2 linked regions of the Homo sapiens genome follow. The protein of the gene in region 2 interacts with the protein of the main gene of each other region in a pairwise test. Each region holds a gene or a part of one and is shown on either strand. Other genes may lie near its edges.

Region 1 (7,026 bases), on a different chromosome or scaffold from region 2:
AAAGAAGACGTCCTCTGCATTCAATGGCCCCACAGCAACAGAGTAGCTCCTTGCCTTCCACACTGCCCACCTCGTAGTTGTAGTCCCAAGTAAGTTCTGTCCCAGCCCGGATTCTTCTGAAGAGGAAGAAAAGGATGGTGTGTGGCAAAGACAGCAGATAACCCAGGCACTTGGGGTTACTGAATATGTAGGTGGAGTTGGATCATGAATGGAGGAGGGGCCCTTAGAACTTCAGTGGTCCTTGCCCCTCCCCAGTCATCCCCTTTCCTGACTCCTTACTTGCTGGCAAAGAAGGCCACCCAGGGGAAGCGAAGATCATGGGTATCCACGAAGACATTCTGGACAAACAGGTTGGGGCTGCAACTGTGCTGTAGGTTTAAGGACAGGATCAAATAAGAACCAGGGAAACTGAACCTGGCTTTGCAGGGAGAGTGAGAGTTGGAAGAAAAATGATGCCATCTGACCCTCCCCATTATAATAGATGCTTTGAAAGAAAGCTACCTCTTTAAGATCCTTTGAGATCAAGAGTTTATAACAAGAAAAGGGCTTATAGAGTATGTTAAAAGAAATCTGAGGACCATGGGATAATCCAGCATCTAGAGGTGGGGAGAGGGGTCTCACGTTGAGGTAGCGGCCCAGGTTGCCTTCAAGCTTGGCATCAATGATGTAGCAAGACTCCTCGCCATCATAGAATTGGCGTGTGTTCTTACGAACAGGTGCGCTCTCCCCCTTGTCCACAGAGGCCATGTTGGTTGATTTAATTGCAATCCCATGGGTTGATTTAAGAGCAAAGCCTCGGGTTGATTTTACTGCCACTTGACGCTTCATTGGACCTGGACAGGAGGGAGAATGGGGTCAGGACCCATCCCAACTCATGAACAGACATTCTATCATGAATGGACATTCTACCCCTATTTCTCTCCCAACATTGCAGCTGAGAAACACCAATAAGCTGGAACTCAAAGATCCTAAGTAGCAGGTTTTTTTTTCAAGCATAATTAGATCTGCTAGACAAAGGAGCTGAGGGGAAAGAGTAAAAAAATGGAAATGAGAGAGGATGTGTCAAACAATAGTTTAGCTTGGAGTCAGAAAGCCCTCCCAGAGATGCTCCAATTCTTAGGATCTGAATTTTTACCCACTACTTCTTTAGCTTCCTTAAAAAATGCTCTATCCCAAGTTTCTTACTATTTCTTCCCACCATTCCCAAAATTTTTCCAGGCTACCAGTCATGTTCTTCTTGTCCTCAAAGTCATCCCCTTCAGAGCCAGAGGATATGGTCTGGATATCATCACTGTCAACCGCTGTAGCCGAAGTCTGACCAGCAGTGGGCTTTCGGCTGGTCCCACTTTCCCCCTCACTTTCTGTGCTGCTGGACAGTGTCAGGACATCCTGGGGAAGCAGGAGGGTAAGAAGTAAGAGAAGTAAATGGGAAGGGCTCCTTTAAGTCCTTGCTGTTACCCACGGTTTGGCAGGAAAGGGCGGTGGCAAGAGGAAGATTAGATGCTGGATGAAAGAAAATAAGGCAGGAAGTCAAGGCTAAAGAAGTAGGAGAAGACCTAACAGTAATTATAGTGAAGGACTTGATGAGGTGACAATGGCCCATTTTCCTTTATTAGACTCTGAATAAGCTTGAGGTGACTTACATCAGGGTTGGACTGAGCAGAAGCCATGAGTCTTCGGCTTTGATGCATACTAGTCTTACTAGGTGGGCGGCGAAGTCCTTCAGGCTTCACAGGAGAAGGATTGTAACCGTAATTTCGAGAGCTTTCAGTAACTCTAATGGGAGGGGAAGGAATGAAGCCAACAGGTTACTGGCTGTTTCTTAGGCTTCTAGCCTAGGTTTGAGAGAAGGCAGATTTGGAGACAGGTCAAAAAGACAGGCACTGGGCTGGACACGGTAGCTCATGGCTGTAATCCCAGCACTTTGGGAGGCTGAGGATCCCCTTTGGGAGCATCGCTTGAGCCCAGGAGTTCAAGACCAGTCTGGGAAACATGGTGAAACCCCGTGTCTACAAAAAATACAAAAACTAGCCAGGCATGGTGGTGCACACCCGTAGTCCCAGCTACTAGGGAGGCTGAGGTGGGAGAATCTCTTGAGCCTGGGAGGGGGAGGTTGCAATGAGCTGAGATTACGCCACTGCACTCCAGCCTGGGTGACAAAGCAAGACTCTGTCTCAAAACAAAACAAAACAAAAGGCACTTACACTGACATCTTGTTTCGGTCGTCAGTGTCCTGGAAAAGAACAAGTGAAGGGTTAAATGCTTTCACAGCCTCGGGTAACAAGTCCAATAATCAGACTTCAAATGACCTCCACAGATAACATCAGCCAGTGACAGGTACACATTCTAAAGTGGGGTGGGTAAACCACTCTGCAACTTGACAGAAATCCTCACTACACTCCCTGGCTGGAGCCTTTAAGCCTTCTCAGTGATGGGGCTTAATGCTCATGGAAAACACCACGAGCAGGATTACATCAACCAGGGACAGTTTCACCATCTGTAATGTGGAAAGCAGCATAATCATCAAAGAGATACTTAAAATCAATTCTTGTTTCTCTACTTTAGTAGAAGGAAACAATGATGTGAATAACTTGAAACAGCATTTAACATTAAAAAATCACTTATAAATCTTTCATTTTGTAATTAATCAGATACTTGTCCACCCTCTACCACCAGGCAAGTGGATTTTAAAATAATTTTTTTTTTTTTGAGACAGAGTCTCGTTCTGTCACCCAGGCTGGAGTGCAGTGGTGCGATCTCGGCTCACTGCACCTCCACCCTCCAGGTTCAAGCGATTCTCCTGCCTCAGCCTCCCAAGTAGCTGGAAATACAGGCATGCACCACCACGCCCGGCTAATTTTTGTATTTTTTAGTAGAGACGGGGTTTCACCATGTTGGCCAGGATGGTCTCCAACTCCTGAACTTCAAGTTATCCACCTGCCTCGGCCTCCCAAAGTGTTGGGATTACAGGTGTGAGCCACTGTGCCCGGTCAATAATTTGGTTCTTTAAACAAACACTAGGAATGTGCTAGTTAGGGGGAGAGATAACGAGGTGGCCACAGAAATATCCATCAAGTAGAATAATCTACATGCAAAGACTCATGGTGAGACTGCATTGTTACTGCACCAAAGTTAAAGCCATAGCTCTCAGAGTGTTCTGCCACTGCTTACCTCTTTCTTGGCCTGTTTGATGTCTCCCTCATCCTTGATGCCTAGTCCTGAGGTGGAGGCCTTCTCAGCCTCCATTCGGCTTCCCCCAGCCCGGCCCTCCCCACCTTCATTAGTCTTGAAGGATGAATGGCTATCAGAGTCAGCAAAACCACCTTCACTGACACTATTGCAGCTCAACCATGAGGCCACCTTGTTCTTGGGTGTCTCTTCGGAGGAAGGTGGATTGCAGCCACCTACAGGGATTGAGGGAGGAACAGGAATATGTGGGGGTCCAAGATCTGGGGGGTGGGAGTCCTTGGAAGTTGTCTCAGAGAGTCCGTTCTCTTTCTGGCCCCGGGTCTGCCTCCGGGTAGCATAGCTCCGCCACACTGAACTGGTGCTGAAGTCCTCATCCTTACAGAAGTTATCATCTGAGCTATCATCATTGGACTCTTCAGGGTCCTCTGTACCGCTGTTGCCATCTTCCTGGTCCTTCAAGTCTACACCACTGCTGTCAGAGGAACAGGGGGCATCACTCTCATATCCTTCTTTGAAGTTCTCCACGCTCTCGATATGGTCCAGATTTGCAAAGTACTCATCACCCATTTCCAGACCCTCCTTGTCTGCAAAGTCATCTGTCAGGATTTTGCCTGAGAATGAAGAGAATTAAAGGCCTTCTAGGGTTATGGGGACCTATTAGTTTTTTTTTTTGTTTGCTTTTTTTTTTTTTTTTTTCCAGATGGAGTCTTGCTCTGTCACCCAGGCTGGAGTGCAGTGGCGCGATCTCGGCTCACTGCAACCTCTGCCTCCCAGGTTCAAGTGATTCTCCTGCCTTAGCCTCCTGAGTAGATAGGACTACAGGTGCACGCCACCATGCCTGGCTAATTTTTTTTGTATTTTTGGTAGAGATGGCGTTTCACCATGTTGGCCAGGTTGGTCTCGAACTCCTGACCTCAGGTGATCTGCCCGCCTCAGCCTCCCACAGTGTTGGGATTACAGGTGTTAGCCACCGCACCCGGCCACGGGGACCTATTAGAAAGAATAAGGATTATTCCATCAATACCCGCTCTACCAGCATATAGAGTCAAAAAGCCTCCATTCTGGTCTCTCATTTCTGTTTTTTTTTTTGTTTTGTTTTTGAGACAGAGTTTCGCTTTTGTCACCCAGGCTGGAGTGCAGTGGCATGATCTCGGCTCACTGCAATCTCTGCCTCAAGGGTTCAAGTGATTCTCCTGCCTCAGCCTCCCAAGTAGCTGGGATTACAGGCATCCACCACCACACCTGGCTAATTTTTGTATTTTTAGTAGAGATGGGGTTTCAACTATGTTGGCCAGGCTGGTCTCCAACTCCTGACCTCAGGTGATCCACCCACTTCGGCCTCCCAAAGTTTTGGGATTACAGGCATGAGCCACCACGCCGGCCCAGTGTTTCTCTTTGATAATACCTCCCTTTGTATCTTAACTATGAAAGTATGGAGAACTTACTGTCATTTTAAATCTTGCCCTTTCTGTCTTTCCATTTCTTCTACTTTATTGAAACAGAGTACTGGGCTATGCTAAAAGATCTCTGAGTGGAGTGACATGGGAGAAAATGATACACTGGACTCTATAATCATGTCTGTTCTCTGAAATATCACCATGTCCAAAATTTCATCCCTTTTCATTCTCTTATTTGTGAAACACTTGTGTCCCTCTCTGGTCTAGCTAGACAGGTACATCACTCATCACGTTCTTTGTAGAAGTCCCTGGCCTCCTCTTACTCCAGTTCACATGTCAAGCACTTTCTTCTTATGTTCAATTTGTCTCTGGTTCAATTCCCTACCATGTCCCAGTCTCAGGAAACAACCCTTATATTTTATCACCAACCTGCATAAATACAAACAAAAGAGCCTTTGGCAATGTCATCCAAGCAGCGGATACCCCAGCCCTTGTTCTGTGTCTTGAATAGCTGTAGCCGAACTTGTAGTCCATGTTGCACCAACCGGTTTGTGCACATGTTTGGGTCACATTTGCAGCGTTTGTTACACTCATATACCCTGGGAGGAGGTTAGAATAAAATCAATCACGGTATGATCACTAGAGCACAAAAAAATCCATAAAACTATTATAATTCTTAAGCTATCATCATTTATAATGTGTTGTGGATAAAGATTAAAAATTAGGTAATGATCTAAGTGAGTGGATCTATTGAACCATCTATGCTCTTTGATTCATTTGGAAATGTAGCCCAAGGAAAAAATTTAGAGGGCGGAGAAATATTTATAAAGATGTCTATAGCAAGACAGCTCATAAAAGTGAATGCTAGAGTGCCTAACACCTGGAGAAAAGCTAAGTAAACTATAATGGGAATACAGATTACAGAGCCATTAAAATAAGCACTATATGGACGGTCAATTTGTAGAAATAGATGCACAAAATAAAGACATGTGAGAAATTCCTGGTGAGGTTTCTTACTAACAACAGCAAAAATAATAATAATAATAAAAATAAATAAATGTGAGAAAAACAGAGGCCAACATAACAGATACGAAAGGGAATAAAGAGATAGGAGGAACTGTGACTAATGTTCATGGTAAAGTTGATTTTCATTCTTTCATTCAGTAAACAATTATTAAACACCAAGAGCTCTACTAAACACTGGAAACATAACAATGAAAAAGATCGTGCTGGGCGTGGTGGCTCATGCCTATAATCCCAGCACTTTGGGAGGCCAAGGTGGGTGGATCACGAGGTCAGGAGAGTGAGACCATCCTGGCTAACACAGTAAAACCCCGTCTCTAATAAAAATTAAAAAATTAGCCGGGTGTGGTGGCATGCATCTGTAGTCCCAGCTACTTGGGAGGCTGAGGTAGGAGAATTCCTTGAACCCAGGAGGCGGAGGTTGCAGTGAGCCAAAATCAAGCCACTGCACTCCAATCTGGGCGACAGGGTGAGACTCTGTCACAAAAAAAAAAAAAAAGAAAAAAGAAAAAAAAGAAAAAAAAAAAGGTCATAATTTCTACCCTCAGGGAGCTCTTTTTTTTTTTTTTGGAGACAGAGTTTCGCTCTCATTGCCCAGGCTGGAGTGCAATGGCGCAATCTCAGCTCACAACCTCCACCTCCCGTGTTCAAGTGATTCTCCTGCCTCAGCCTCCCAAGTAGCTGAGATTACAGGCACGCGCCACCGTGCCTTGCTAATTTTGTATTTTTAGTAGAGATGGAGTTTATCCATGTTGATCAGGCTGGTCTCGAATTCCCGACCTCATGTGATCCGCCTGCCTTAGCGAACCAAAGGGCTGGGAGTACAGGTGTGAGCCACCGTGCCCAGCCCAGGGGAGCTCATATTCTATCTAATTTAAGAATTTGGGCCAGGCGCAGTGGCTCATGCCTGTAATCCCAGCTACTGAGGATGCTGAGGTGAGAAGATCACTTGAGCTCAGGAGTTCGAGGTTTCAGTGAGCTATGATCATACCACTGCGCTCCAGCCTGAATGACAAAGCAAGTCCACCCCATCTCTGAAAAAGAAAAAAATTTTAATTATTTTTAAACAACCATTAAAGGTAATCAGAGGGATCTAGCACATACCAACATTAAAGGAAGATAACACAGTTATACTAAGAAAACTAATTGTTTCAGGTAACAATGTTTTTGCTCTATTTGCCCAGTGTTAGAATTTTACTTATTTTCTTGGTATGTAAAATCAATGGAAGAAATTTACTTTGGAAATGTATCAACAGCTCAGTTAGTTCACGATTTTAGTCATATCCTCTCTCCAGATAAAGATGGTAAGAGCAGCTTCTAGTTACTAAGCATATACTTTTGTGTTTGGCATTGTGTGAATGCCTTATATATACATATTCTATCCTTAAAGCTGCCCTAATACAGGTGGTGTTTTTTC
Region 2 (7,592 bases):
CCCGAGTAGCTGGGACTAGGTGCACACCACCACACCTGATTAATTTCCACATTTTTTGTAGAGACGGGGTTTTGCCATGTTGGCCAGGCTGGTCTTAAACTCCTGGGCTAAAGCAATCCACCCGCCTCAGCCTCCCAAAGTGCTGGGATTACAGGCGTGAGCCAGCACGTCCAGCCTGCTTATCTCTTATTGTGCCTAATTCATAAATTAAACTTTATTATAGGTATGTATGAAACAAAACATAGCATATATACAGTTTGGTACTATATGTGGTTTTCAGACATCCACTGGGGATTTTGGAATATACTGCTGTACAGGACACATAAGGAAATGCATAGGAGATAAAGTTAGAGAAAATGTCACATTATAAGTGGTTCTGCATTCCAAGTTAAAGCATTCGGGCTTTATTCTGTGGACAATTAAAAGATTTAGGAAAATCATATGATTAGATTAGGAAAATTAGCTTCATTGTAGTGAGTTAAAAGGACTGAAGGAGAAACAAGGCAGAAAGGCCAGTAAGGAGGTTGTTGCAATTCTCTAAACAAGAACAAGGACCTGAACTATGGTAGTAACAATAGAAATAGTAAACAGAAGTCAGACTGGAGAGCTGTTATAGAAAAGGATCAGCAAAAAAAATAAAAATAAAAATCATCATTGGAATGAATATGAGAGTACAAGTATAAGAGAAATACCAACTATGATGTCCAAATTCCCAGCCTAGGGAGTAGAAAGATCTGAAACTATCAAGAAAAATACAGCCCACAGAGGAAGAAATATATTTAGAAGGGAAAAACCATGAGTTCAGTTCTTTACATCAATGACAATAAAGTTATTATGAAATCATAGGAAGTGCAAGACACTCATTCAACTAACACTATTTACTGAGCACATACTATGTGACAGAGTTCTAGCAGTGAAACAATTACAAATCCCTGCCTTCATGAAACCTACATTCTAGTAGAGACATAACAAAATAAATCAGTAGAATAGTGAACCAGAGGGTCACAGTAAGAAACTTGTCTTTATTTAGAGTGAAATGGAAAGCCATTAGTTTTAAGGAAAGGAGAGATCTGACCTACCTCATATTTTAACAGACTAACTCTAGTAGCCTGGCTGGAAAAAAAGACCAAATGGAGGCTGTGACAAGCATTGAGAGGCAGTTAAGAAGTGAATGCAATTATCCACATCAGTGATGATGGTGACTGAGGAAGAGGGTAGTAGCAGAGGAGGTAGTGAGATGTTGTCAAAATCAAGATATATTTTGAAGGTGGAACCTAGAGGGTTTACTGAAATAACAAATGTGGAGTGTAAGAGAAAGGAAGGAATCAAAGATGATTTCAAGTTTCTGACCTGAGTCAAAATAATTGAGCTGCCATTAATTGAGATGAGCAAGACTGAGAGAAGAGCAGGTTTTAGGCAGAAGATCAGGAACCCCATTTTGGACATGTTAAGTTTGGGTTGCCTGTCTGACACATACAAATAGAGATGCCCACTAAGCAATTAAATATTCAGGACTTTTATAAAGGAAGAGGTCAGTGCTTTACATGGAAATCTGTTGTCAGTGTATAGGTGGTATTTAAAACCGTTCTCTATTTGGATTTGCTCTCTCTTGGTGACAGAGTACAGGTCCAAAAGAAAAGGTCCAAGAACTAAATCCTGACTAACTCAAATTTTAAAAGTGGGCATAAGAGAAATAACCAGAAAAAGAGAAAGCCAAAGAGTAGGGGGAAAAAATCAGGAGACTGGGGGAGTCCTGAAGCCCAGTAAAGAAAGCGCATGATGGAAAAAGTGTCAAATGTGTCAAAAAAAAAAAAACGCTGCTATTAGGTCAATGAAGGTGAGAAACATAAGCTGACCATTGGATTTGGCAACATGGAGATAACTGGTGAACTTGAAAAGAGCGTGATGGAAAAAGTGTCAAATGTGTCAAAAAACGCTGCTATTAGGTCAATGAAGGTGAGAAATATGAGCTGACCATTGGATTTGGCAGCATGGAGATAATTGGTGAACTTGAAAAACGCCAAGGGTGACTGAGTGCATTCAAGGGTGAATAAGAAAGAAATTGGAGAAAATAGAGATAACTCTTTTGAGTTATCTGTAAAGTGAAGCAAAGAAATGGTGTGATTATAGAAGGGACAAGAAGAATAAAAAAATTTTGTGGGTTTTTTTGATGAAAACATTCGTGAATACAGATGGAAAAGACCTAACAGAAGGAAAAGGGGGCAGTACCTTTAGTAAGCCTAAATATATGTAATCCAACGCACCTAAGCAGAAACGGTAAGGCAAGGAGAAAAGATGGAAAACGGAGATATAAATTTGAGATGGCGCTGACAGAAGCAAGCACAAGTGAAGCCATGAAAATGTCAAGGAAAAAGTCAACAAGAAAACTGGCTTAATAAAGAGGTCATGGCAAAAATAAATAAAAATGTGACATCGGATCAACGAAGTAGGTGGACAGCGCCCGTGTCTCAAGAGCTCACGCGGCTTGTAATTAAGGGCTTGAAACATCTGTATCCCGTTAACCCTGCAATAAGCAAAGTGACAGGAATTTAGTCTTCCTTGGGAATTCAAGAACGAAGAAAGAACAAAGGTACATACCTCGTGAGGAGTATTGCACACAGCCAATCCCACAAGGCCAGTGGTCTGTTCAAAAACAAAACACGATTCATGCTGTTTACTACGGTTTCCATACATCCAGCACGCTAAGGAAATACAAAACCACGAATCCCCCGGCTAAAACTGGTCTAAAGCCAGCTACTGGTCTCTCAGTCTCGCTTGTTTGGAGCTTTTTTCCTGACTCTCGGAGCGGAACCACTAACCTGCCCTACCCGGTAAGGCATGCAGAACGAGTCCCCGAAAAGCACCGCCGAGCCCGCGACAGTAGGGGTCAACACCCGCGGGAAGTAGGGCTATCGGACTGAGTCTACCCCCACAGTCTAAATTCCAACAGTGACCTCCATTCGTCTCACCTTCTTCAGCACACCCGCCATGACAGCGCCAACGACTCGGTGACGCACAACCCTTTGGGAACAATTCTCAGACCTGCTCAATCGACCACCGAGGTCGCCACTCTGTCACCCTGGAAACAGCTTAGCTCCACCCCTTCAGGATCGCCAAAGGAGCAAAGACTCTGCCCCGCCCATCTTAAAAGAGAAAAATTGACGCATGCGCGATGGGCATACAAGCCTAAAGCTAAGCTAGAAGACGATTGGGGAAAGAAAGGGTTTCCCAGCTGTCTGTTCCTGTTCCTGCCACTGCTGACGGCTTGCCCAAAGATTGAGGGAAACACTCCCAACTACCAAAAAACTCCAGTCGCTGTAGGAACCTGCACTGTGCTTAACCGTTGATGCATTCCTCAACCTTCCTTTCTCAGTTTAGTAAAATGAAAGTGATAACGGAGCTTGAGCATCCTCTGAATTGATCTCTCAACAGCAAGTTAGTTCTTCGCACAAGGATATCAGTATTCTCTGTGTCTTACGAACCAAAGCCCTATGGAGTGTGAGGTCATTTTCCATCGCTCTTTTCGATTTCACTGGCTGAAATACATCATCTTATTTCCAGATGAAATGATATCAGACCATACCACTTTTTCCTACCTCCACAAACACTGACCACTCACTATGTGTCAGTTACTGGGACATAATTTCTAAAATGGGATTTCACATCCTGGAATTCAAAGAATAATGAAGAAGGCGTGTATTAATAAATAATTTGGTAACTGTTCTAAAAGAAGTTGATGCAAAGTGTGATGGTACCAGGGAAAAGGAAATAACTAAAAAGCGTGGGTGACTTTCTAAAAAGTCAGTAGGAGAAAAGAACAAATTGAGAAAACACAAGTACAAAGGAAAAGAGGTTAAAAATGTATATATAAATTCCAGGTGATTTTATGTGATTGGAAAGGTGGGTTTGATTGTTAAGGTAAACTGGTTAAGATTATGAAAGGTGTTGTTTGCCATTATACAAAATTTGAATTTTACTTTTTAAGGAATGGGAACAATGAGAAGACTTTTAAGCTTCTAAGTGACACCATCAAATTTATGTTTCAGATATACAAACAACTTAGGCAACAGTTGAAGAGAATGAGTTGGAAGAGATGAGGCCTTTCATTAGAGGCATGAGACTAGAAAAAATGAAAGCTAAACCAAAAGCAAACAGAAGAAAGGAAATATTAAAGATTAGAAAAGAAGGAGACAGAATATCAATAAAGAAAATCAATGAAACCAGGAATTGGTTCCCTAAAAGGATCAACAAAATTGGCAAACCTTTAGTGAAACTAAGAAAAAAAAGAGAGAAGATTTAATACAAGCAAGAATAAAAGAACCATCACTAATAGCCTTGCTGAAATAAACAGGAATAAGAAGGAATACTATGAACAACTATGCTTAAAAAAGATAAAGTAGATAAAATGGCCAGATTCCTAGAAAAACACAAACTACCTAAATCAACTCAAGAAGGCATAAAGAAAAATCTGACTAGATCTAACATAATTAAAGAAATTGAATTAGCAAGAAAAAAAAAAAAACCTATCCAGAAGGAAAAGCACAGGTCCAGATGGCTTCGCTGGTAAATTCCACTGAACAATTAAAGAATAACACTTAAGAAACTATTCCAAAATATAGAAGAGGAGGAAACAATTAACAACTAATTCTATAAGGCAAGTATTACTCTGATTCCAACCAGACAAAGAAATCAACAAGAAACAAAAACTTCAGCCAGGTGTGGACTCTGATTCCAACCAGACAAAGAAATCAACAAGAAAAGAAAACTTCGGCTGGGCCTGGTGGCTCATGCCTGTAATCCCAGCACTTTGGGAAGCTGAGGCAGGAGGATCACCTGAGGTCAAGGGTTTGAGACAGCCTGGCCAACATGACAAAACCTTCTCTCTACTAAAAATACAAAAATTAGCCAGGCCTTGTGGTGTGTGCCTGTAATCTCAGCTACTCTGGAGGCTGAGACAGGAGAATCACTCAAACTCAGGAGGCAGAGGTTGCAGTGAGCCAAGATTGGGCCATTGCACTCTAGCCTGGGTGACAGAGCAAGATTCCGTCTCACAAAAAAAAAAAAAAAAAAGGAAAGAAAAAAGAAAATAAAACTTCAGGCCAATATCCCTTATTAATAAACACAAAATACTCAGAAAAGTACTAGCAAACCAAATTCAGTAGCATATGAAAAAAAAATTATACACCACAAATAAATGATATTTATTTCAAAAATACAAAGTTGGTTTAACATCCCCAAATCAATTAATCTAATGTACCATTGAATACAGGACAAAAACTATATGATAATTTTAATAGATGCAGAAAAAGCATTGGACAAATTTCAACATGCTTTCATGATAAAAGCACACAACAAGCTGGGAAAAGAAGAGAAATTTTTCAACCTGATAAAGATGCTTAGAAAAACCCCACAACATCATACTTAAGAGTGAAAGGCAATTCTTTTCTGCTAAGATCATTCACAAGACAAATATTTTTCCACTCTCACCACTTCTATCCAACAATATATTGGAAATATTAGCTAAGGGAATTAGGCAAGAAAATAAAATGAATAAAAGTCATCCAGAAGAGACAGGAAAAAGTAAAACTATCTCTATTCACAGTTGCATAATCTTTTATATAGGATTATTAAGGAATACACACATACATACAATTAAAACAAATAACTTCAGCAAAGTTACATTATACGTGATCTATCAGGGTCAGCTCAGGCTGCCATAACAAAATACTATGGATGAGGTGGCTTAAACAACAGAAATGTATTTCTCACAGTTCTGAAGGCTGATAAGTTTAAGACCAAAGCCAGCAAGACAGATTTCATTCTGAGGCTTTTTCTTTTGGCTTATACTGGTTACCCTCTCATGGTATGCTCATATTTACCTCTTTTCGTGTGTGCTTGGGGTTGGGTCAGGGTGGAGAGCAAGATCTCTGGTGTCCCTTTTTATAAGGCCACTGTTACCATCATGACCTCATCTAAACCTAATTATCTCCCAAAGATTCCATCTCCAAATACCATTTTATTGAGGTTTAGAGCTGTAATATATGAAATCTGGGGGACATAGTCCATAGCAATCAATATACAAAAATATGCTCTAGTCTATTATAGCAATGAATAATCTGAAAATAAATTAAGAAAACAATTCTATTTACCATAGCATCAAAAAGAAATAAATCTAACAAAATAAGTGTAACACTTGTACACTGAAAAGTATTAAATATTGTTGGAAATACTAAAGATCTAAATAAATAGACATTTCTTATTTAATGATTTGAAGTCAATATTGGTCAGATGGCAATACTCAAGTTGATGTAGCGTTTCATCACAATTCCTATCAAAATCCCAGCTTCCTTTTTGCAGAAATTTTTCACAAAAGATTTGTCAGTAGCAGAAGGCACTGTTTGATAACACTTGTCTCACAGAAGAACTCTCAAAATTGGAATCAGTCCTCTCAATTCTGCTGCTGCTTTATCAACCAAATTTATAAAATATTATAAAGACTTTGTTGTCATTTAAACAATATTCACAGTATCTTCACCAGGAGTAGATTCCATCTCAAGAAACCACTTTCTTTGTTCATTCAAGAAGCAACTCATCATCTGATCAAGTTTTATCATGAGATTGCAGCAGTTCAGTCACATCTTCAAGCTCTACTTCTAATTCTGGTTCTCTTGCTGTTTTCCTCACATTTGCAATGGCTTTTTCCACTGATCTTCAACCCCTCAAAGTCATCCATGTGAGTTGGAATCAACTTTTGCTAAACTCCTGTTAATATTGATATTTTGACCTCCTTGCATGAATCACCAATTTTTTTTTTGAGACAGAGTCTCTATTGCCCAGGCTGGAGTGCAGTGGCATGATCTTGGCTCACTGCAACCTCTGCTGCCCCAGTTCAAGCAATTCTCCTGCCTCAGCCTCCCGAGTAGCTGGAATTACAGGCATCTGCCACCGCACCCGGCTAATTTTTGTATTCTTAGTAGAGACGGGGTTTCACCGTCTTGGCCGGGCTGGTCTTGAACTCCTGACCTCATGATCCACCCACCTCAGCCTTCCAAAGTGCTAGGATTACAAGCGTGGCCACCGCACCTGGCCCATGAATCACCAAATCTTTTTAATAGCATCTAGTGTGGTCAGTTCTTTCAAGAAGGTTTTCAATTTATGTTACCCAGATCTGTCAGAGGAATCGGTATTTATGGTAACTATAGCCTTATAAAATGTATTTTTTTAAATAAGACTTGAAAGTGGACATTACTCCTTGACTCGTGGACTGCAGAATGATGACTGCAGCATGTTGTGCGTGAAAACAATGTTAATCTCTTTGTACATCTTCATCCTCAGGGCTCTTGAGTGACCAGGTACATTTTCAATGAGCAGTAATATTTTGAAAGAAATCTTCTTTTTTCTTAGCCCAGACTTTGTTGTTCCATTTATAGAACACAGGCAGACTAGATTTAGCATCATTCTTCAGGGTCCTAGGATTTTCAGGATGGTAAGTGAGCATGGGCTTCAACAGCTGCATAAGCCTGTAACAAGAGAGTTAGCCTGTCTTTTGAAGCTTTGAAGCCAGGTGTTGACTTGTCCTCTCTAGCTTTGAA

What was found. The genes of interacting proteins can lie anywhere in the genome.
Region 1: the proteins of NDUFA5 (region 2) and SETDB1 interact in binary tests that used the Homo sapiens proteins (3 or more experiments, as listed by UniProt).

Annotation. Positions count from the first base shown.
Region 1 is NC_000001.11:150,957,337-150,964,362, reverse strand, and holds part of SETDB1 (histone-lysine N-methyltransferase SETDB1), read right to left. Parts: intron 5,186-7,026; coding exon 5,016-5,185; intron 3,801-5,015; coding exon 3,172-3,800; intron 2,234-3,171; coding exon 2,205-2,233; intron 1,777-2,204; coding exon 1,644-1,776; intron 1,390-1,643; coding exon 1,224-1,389; intron 834-1,223; coding exon 622-833; intron 369-621; coding exon 280-368; intron 117-279; coding exon 1-116. UniProt on the Homo sapiens protein: Histone methyltransferase that specifically trimethylates 'Lys-9' of histone H3. H3 'Lys-9' trimethylation represents a specific tag for epigenetic transcriptional repression by recruiting HP1 (CBX1, CBX3 and/or CBX5) proteins to methylated histones.
Region 2 is NC_000007.14:123,554,806-123,562,397, forward strand, and holds the start of NDUFA5 (NADH dehydrogenase [ubiquinone] 1 alpha subcomplex subunit 5), read right to left. Parts: upstream 3,014-7,592; 5' UTR 2,991-3,013; coding exon 2,970-2,990; exon of another isoform or gene 2,841-2,969; coding exon of another isoform or gene 2,820-2,840; intron 2,644-2,819; coding exon 2,599-2,643; intron 2,515-2,598; exon of another isoform or gene 1-2,514. UniProt on the Homo sapiens protein: Accessory subunit of the mitochondrial membrane respiratory chain NADH dehydrogenase (Complex I), that is believed not to be involved in catalysis. Complex I functions in the transfer of electrons from NADH to the respiratory chain.